Linked DNA regions of Homo sapiens: region 1 is linked to region 2. The links come from fine-mapping of genetic effects on gene expression. A gene starts in region 2. The other region holds a variant in brackets. All regions are shown on one strand. Distances are from middle to middle.

The links. PIP is the estimated chance that this variant, and not a neighbour inherited with it, causes the effect.
Region 1: its variant is fine-mapped to the expression of CDK3 in whole blood (TOPMed, PIP above 0.99). The same link has a PIP of 0.9 or more in blood mononuclear cells.

What each region holds. Positions count from the first base shown.
Region 1 is chr17:75,974,238-75,977,142 of GRCh38, reverse strand. All of the region lies in intron 2 of ACOX1 (acyl-CoA oxidase 1), which reads left to right. Among named protein-coding and RNA genes, the nearest start is that of ACOX1, 3.5 kb to the left of the region's middle. The variant A/C (reference allele first, on the strand shown) is at 1,325.
Region 2 is chr17:75,999,549-76,002,381 of GRCh38, reverse strand. It overlaps CDK3 (cyclin dependent kinase 3), which reads right to left and starts at 1,527. Exons shown (of 8, transcript NM_001258.4): 1 at 1,415-1,527; 2 at 841-970; 3 at 431-508; 4 at 240-360; 5 at 1-134. The coding sequence starts at 956. It overlaps TEN1 (TEN1 subunit of CST complex), which reads right to left. Exons shown (of 4, transcript NM_001113324.3): 4 at 1,796-2,241. The coding sequence ends at 2,120. It overlaps TEN1-CDK3 (TEN1-CDK3 readthrough (NMD candidate)), which reads right to left. Exons shown (of 10, transcript NR_037709.1): 4 at 841-2,241; 5 at 431-508; 6 at 240-360; 7 at 1-134. LOC124904061 (a long non-coding RNA gene) reads left to right here and starts at 1,822. Exons shown (of 2, transcript XR_007065911.1): 1 at 1,822-2,577; 2 at 2,746-2,833. RefSeq lists a silencer at 1,641-1,720 and an enhancer at 1,851-1,900.

The DNA.
Region 1 (2,905 bases), 25 kb after region 2:
TTCTGGGGTCCCAGCTATTCAGGAGGCTGAGGCAGGAGAATCCCTTGAACCTGGGAGGCAAAGGCTGCACTGAGCCGAGATCACGCCACTGCACTCCAGACTGGGCAACAAAGAGAGACTCTGTCTCAAAAAAAAAAAAAAAAAAAAAAAAGACTTTTTTGCCTTAACCTAAACAAACACTATTACATGATCCTAGTACAAGATTATTTTGGCCTATAGCATTTTTTTCTCATTTATTCCTGGGCATTTTCTCTTTTAGGTTTCTCCATTTTAAAGGAACTCCAGTATTTTCATCGGTAAAGACTAAATCGTATGAGTGGTGTATAGACTAGAACCAAGCTAAATAGAACATGTTGCACGTTCTGCCTTTATGGTAATAATGGTCACTGCCTCTAGTGCCTTTGGTATCGATTTTCAGCTTGACTTGGGTTATTTTTGTGAAGATGAAATGGTTTACTCTGGCACTTTGGACTTTCCTCAGAGCTCCACTCAGTTTTAAACGAAAAAATTTTGTTTATTTATTTTTGGTAGTTCAAATCAGCATACTTCCAAATGGTCTGTTTTGTTTTTGAAGTTTGTAACTCATGGCTGTGGGGATATTGAGATAGAGTAACTCCTCCTAGAAGATTATGTTACTGATACCTGTGTTGTGTTTGTAAATTTGAAAAAATTAGTAAGATTTTATTCCTTCTTGAAACGTCAGGAAAAAAGTGGGTTGAGTGTGTGTGTGTGTGTTTGAATGGGTGGTGCAGTGCATTTCAAAGCTGATAGAGATGATTTCATAACCTGTGACCTGTTGATAATGTGAACCAGACTCGAGTGAGGTCACAATGAAATAGAACAAAGTCTTTTATGCGGGTTAAAGATTCATGGACACCGGGAAGTTGTTTTGTGTATCATTTTTCATGTGAAGTATTAAAGTACAAACTTTAACACACCCTTTGACACACTTCCAATGTCCTTAGGATATGACAAGGAGATCAGTTTTTAAGTAAGAGAAGGGGTTTGTAAATGAGTCCTGGAAATTATCGCATGCTATCGAGTTAAAGCCTCGGTTATATAATCTCATCGATTATAACTCACACCAGTGTTTTGTGTACCACTAAGAAAGAAAGAATGCTGCCAGTTAACCGTGACATGCTATTAATTGTGAAATACATCACCTTTCTTTCTTTTCTTTTCTTTCTTTCTTTCTTTTCTTTTCTTTCTTTTCCTTTCTTTTTCTTTCTCTTTCTCTTCCTCTTTCTTTTTCTTTCTCTCTCTTTCTTTCTCTCTCTCTCTCTCTCTCTGCATTTCCATTTATTTCCATTATCAGCAGGTGAAG[A/C]GGCATCTGCCACCTCACCCAGCTAACTTTTGTATTTTTAGTAGAAATGGGGTTTCACCATGTTGGCCAGGCTGGTCTCGAACTCCTGGCCTTGTGATCCACCCGCCCCTTCCTCCCAAAATGCTGGGATTACAGGCATAAGCCACTGCGCCTGGCTGAGAAAACATTTTTAACTGATGTTAATGAGCAGCTTCTAAACACATGATTAGGACGCAGAAGTCGTTCCCTCTGGTGGAATCTATAATGATTACATTAATTCATTTTGATTAATTAGAAATATTCGTATCTAAGAGCATCCATGTTGAGAGTTTTTTGTTTCTAAGTGGATTATGATTTATGTAAGATAGAAAAGACAATGGGACTGGGGCATGGTGGCTCACGCCTGTAATCCCAGCACTTTGGGTGGCTGAGGTGGGCAGATCACTTGAGGCCAGGCCACTTCATGACCAGCCTGGCCAACATGGCAAAACGCCTTCTCTACTAAAATACAAAATTAACCGGGCTTGGTGGCACACGCCTATAATCCCAGCTACTTGGGAGGCTGAGGCATGAGAATCACTTGAACCTAGGAGGCAGAGGTTGCCGTGAGCTGGGATCACACCACTGTACTCCAGCCTGGGCAACAGAGGGAGACTGTCTCCAAAAAAGAAAAAAAAAGAAATGGCGGGGATAACCGTGTAGTACTTATTTAGGAAATAGAAAAATAAGGGTATATTGTGTTTACTATTATTTCTTTCTTTCTTTCTTTTTTTTTTTTTTTTTTTTTTTGGAGACAGAGTCTCGCTCTGTCGCCCAGGCTGGAGTGCAGTGGTGCGATCTCGGCTCACTACAAGCTCCGCCTCCCGGGTTCACGCCATTCTCCCGCCTCAGCCTCCTGAGTAGCTGGGACTACAGGAGCCCACCACCACACCCGGCTAATTTTTTTTTTGTATTTTTCGTAGAGACGGGGTTTCACCATGTTAGCCAGGATGGTCTCGATCTGATGGTCTCGATCTCCTGACCTCGTGATCCACCCGCCTTGGCCTCCCAACGTGCTGGGATTACAGGCGTGAGCCACCGCGCCCGGCTACTATTATTTCTTTTAAGGTGGTAGTTTGGTTTCAGGGTCCCCCAGCACTGCAATGGCAGCCTATCCCTTCTGTCCTTTAGTTCATGCTCTGCTCATTGCACAGGTTAGGATAAACTGGTAGTAACATTGCTTCCTAATCATGTGTTGAGAAGTCGTGAAGATCAGTTAGATGAGATGTATTTTGTACTTTAAACTTTTTAGATACGAGCTTTGTCAAAGTACAAAATTGATCCCTATAAAATCTATGACACAGCACAGCCAAGGCCAACTACTGTGGATTCTGTTTTGTAAGAAGAGAGTTGAGGACTAAATTTCAATGTGATGTAGAGTTAATCCGTAGTAATGTTCATTGACCATTGGGGATAAATTTTTACATGCCCACATTACTTATTGTAAACCCTGAAGACCTTTAGCGATGTATGATTCTGCCCTGGAATATGTATTTACTCTTTTGGATATTTGCTTATATTATCTAGGGAAACATAGTTGAAATTATTTCTTCCTTGGAGCTC
Region 2 (2,833 bases):
CGAGCCAGGCCGAAGTCAGCCAGCTTGATGGCACCCAACTCATTGATGAGCAGGTTCTGGGGCTTCAGGTCTCGGTGGATGACCCGATGTGAGTGGCAGAAACTCACCCCCTGCAGCAGCTGGAAGAGGTAGCTCTGGAGAAACGAGCGCGAGGTGCAGCCAGCTGAGCGGAGGTGCTGCGTGGACAGGGATGGCAGGGATGGGGTGTCACCTCTCCTTCCCTGCCCTTCCTTCCCTACCTTGATGAGGTGCAGGGGGAGCTCTGAGCCTGGGGTGGAGTCCATGTACTTCTTCAGGTCCTGGCTGAGGAACTCAAACACCAGATAGAGCTTCCTCTCGTTGTGCACCACGTCCAGCAGTCTGACAGGGAGATGGCAGTCAGGATGCTACCTTCGCCATCCCAGCTTCCCCACCTCAATCCCCAACTCACCGGACGATGTTGGGGTGCTTCAGTTCCTTGAGCAGCGAGATCTCCCTGATGGCAGTGCTTGGGACCCCCTCCATCTCCCTGCAAGAAACAAGGGCACAGCCGTGGGCAGAGACTTGGGCCAAGAAGGGCACTTCCAGCCAGGGGGATCGGCTTCTCCTTAACCCCACAGAATGACCAGGGCCCCGGCAATGGAGACCTGTGCTCCTTGGCACGTCATCCACCAAACTCCACAGTCAGGGCCCCGGCAAAGGCTGGTCAGAAGGCAGTGAACTGGGGAGAGGACAGGTAAGGGCTGCTGGGCAGCACCCAGAGGAGTTAAACGTGGACTCCAGGAAAGAGGGAACGGATCAGGGAGCGCCCAGGTTGTGATGGCCCAGGGTGGGTAACTCAGGGGCCGTCCCAGCACTCACAAATCCAGTCTGATCTTCTTCAGGGCCACCAGCTGCCCTGTCTCCCTGTTCTTGGCCTTGTACACCACCCCATAGGTGCCCTCTCCGATCTTCTCTACCTTCTGGAACATATCCATGGCCACAGAGCTGCCTGGGAAACAGAAGGCACCGGGCAATTTGCACCCCACGCCCAGCGCTCCCGTTGCTCCTCCAGCTTCCATGTGGCGCCCTGCCCAGCCCAGCCCAGCCCAGACTGCCCAGCTCCCAAGGCCCACGGCCTAGCCACCCCAACCCCAGCTCATCCTGCCTGGGAACCTGGCTGGGGGTCGGAAACCGCCCCTCACCCAGCCCAGCCCGGACCCCAAGGGGGTCAGGGGGCCCCCTTCACCCAGCCCAGTTCAGCCAGGACCCCCAGGCTTCTCGCCCATGCCCGGCCTCGGAGGGCAGGGCCCACACTCTCCCACCCAGCCCCCTGCCCATCCCAGCCAGAACCCCCAGGAAGTCAGAGACCACCCCTCGCCCAGCCCAGCCCAACATGGACCCCCAGGCCTCTCACTTGTGCCGGGCCTTAGAGGGCAAGACCACCCTTTCCCACCTGGGTCACTGCCCAGCCCAGCCAGTCCCAGGCTCTGGGTACACATGGCGGCCAGGAAGGGCTGCCCAGGGGCCAGGGCCACTGGGGGCAGAGGTCAGGGGTCAGGAGGGTCTTAAAGCCACAGTCCTGTCTTAGGCTGCACGGTCAGGGCCCAGGGCCTCAGCCCGGCCCGTGTGACGACGCTCAGCCTCCTCTGAAGGCAGAGCCTGGCCAGGGGCAGACCCCTGCATCCTGGGCCCCCCACCCCAGCCCCTGGGCCCCTGGTGCCCTACCCTGAGGCCCCAGGCCCAGAATTCACCAGAAGCCCTGAGAGGCTGCAGCCCACAGCCTGGGTTGCAGCTCCCCCTCCTGGCCCCCGCCGGCGCTGCACCACGAGCACACTTCAAGAGCACGCCCCCTGGGCCTTTATTCACCAGGACCTTCTGGAACCCTCCATGGCCCCACACCAAGCACGGCCCCGGCGCCCAAGCTCGGCCACCTGCAGTCTCCTGGGGTGGGGCTGTCGGATTTATGGCATGCTTTCTGGGTTCTCATTGCTGAGCCAATCCCAAAGTAGGGGAAGGGGCTGGATTCATCACCCGCCCCTCGGCTTTCGAGCTCCAGACAAGGCCGTCGCTGGGGAGGCGTCTGTGCTCTCCCGGGCTCCTGCAGCTCCAGAGGGTTCGGGCTCTGAAGCAGGTGAGGGTGTTGCTAGGCTGCTGTTTCCTACTGGCTGCCGCCCCGCTCCTGCTTGTACAGTCTCTGCTCCCGGATGGCTTGTTCCAACAAGGGCAGGTTCATCCCCTCCACACAGGTCAGCACGCGCGCCTTCACCACGGAGCCTCTGTCTGCAAGACAAACACCAGGGCACGAACGGCGACTGAGCGGCGTGTCAACAACGTCCTCCAAGGTGCATTCCAGCTGTTCCCTCCACAGCTCAGTCCTGGGTTTTGGCAGCAAGTGATGTGGACAATAACAGCATATGGGGCAAAGGCAACTGAGTATTTGGGCCTAGAACCGTGGGCCTGTCATGCACAGTCGGCCCGTGTCTGGAACTTAGCAGGTGGTCAGAAAACCCCTCTGGACTGAGGGAAAGGCCCCCTTGGCACCTTGGGACACAATGTCATCAGGAACCGGGGAAAAGAGACACCCATATTTTAAAAATCCAAGAGACTGAGCTCCCGGTAAGTTTGGCTTTATAGGAGCAGGTCATCCCACCCTGGACGAGGGGGGCTTCTAGCAGATGCGGTGGTGACCTGATACATAATGGAAAGGTTTGCCACTATTCAGGTGGCACCAAACAGGAAAGACATCTCCGAGAGACTTTTTAAAAATTTTCTTTCTTTTGACAGGTGAACTGGCTCACACCTGTAATCTCAGCACTTTGGGAGGCCAAGGCATGTGGAACACTTGAGGTCAGGAGTTCAAGACCAGCCTGGC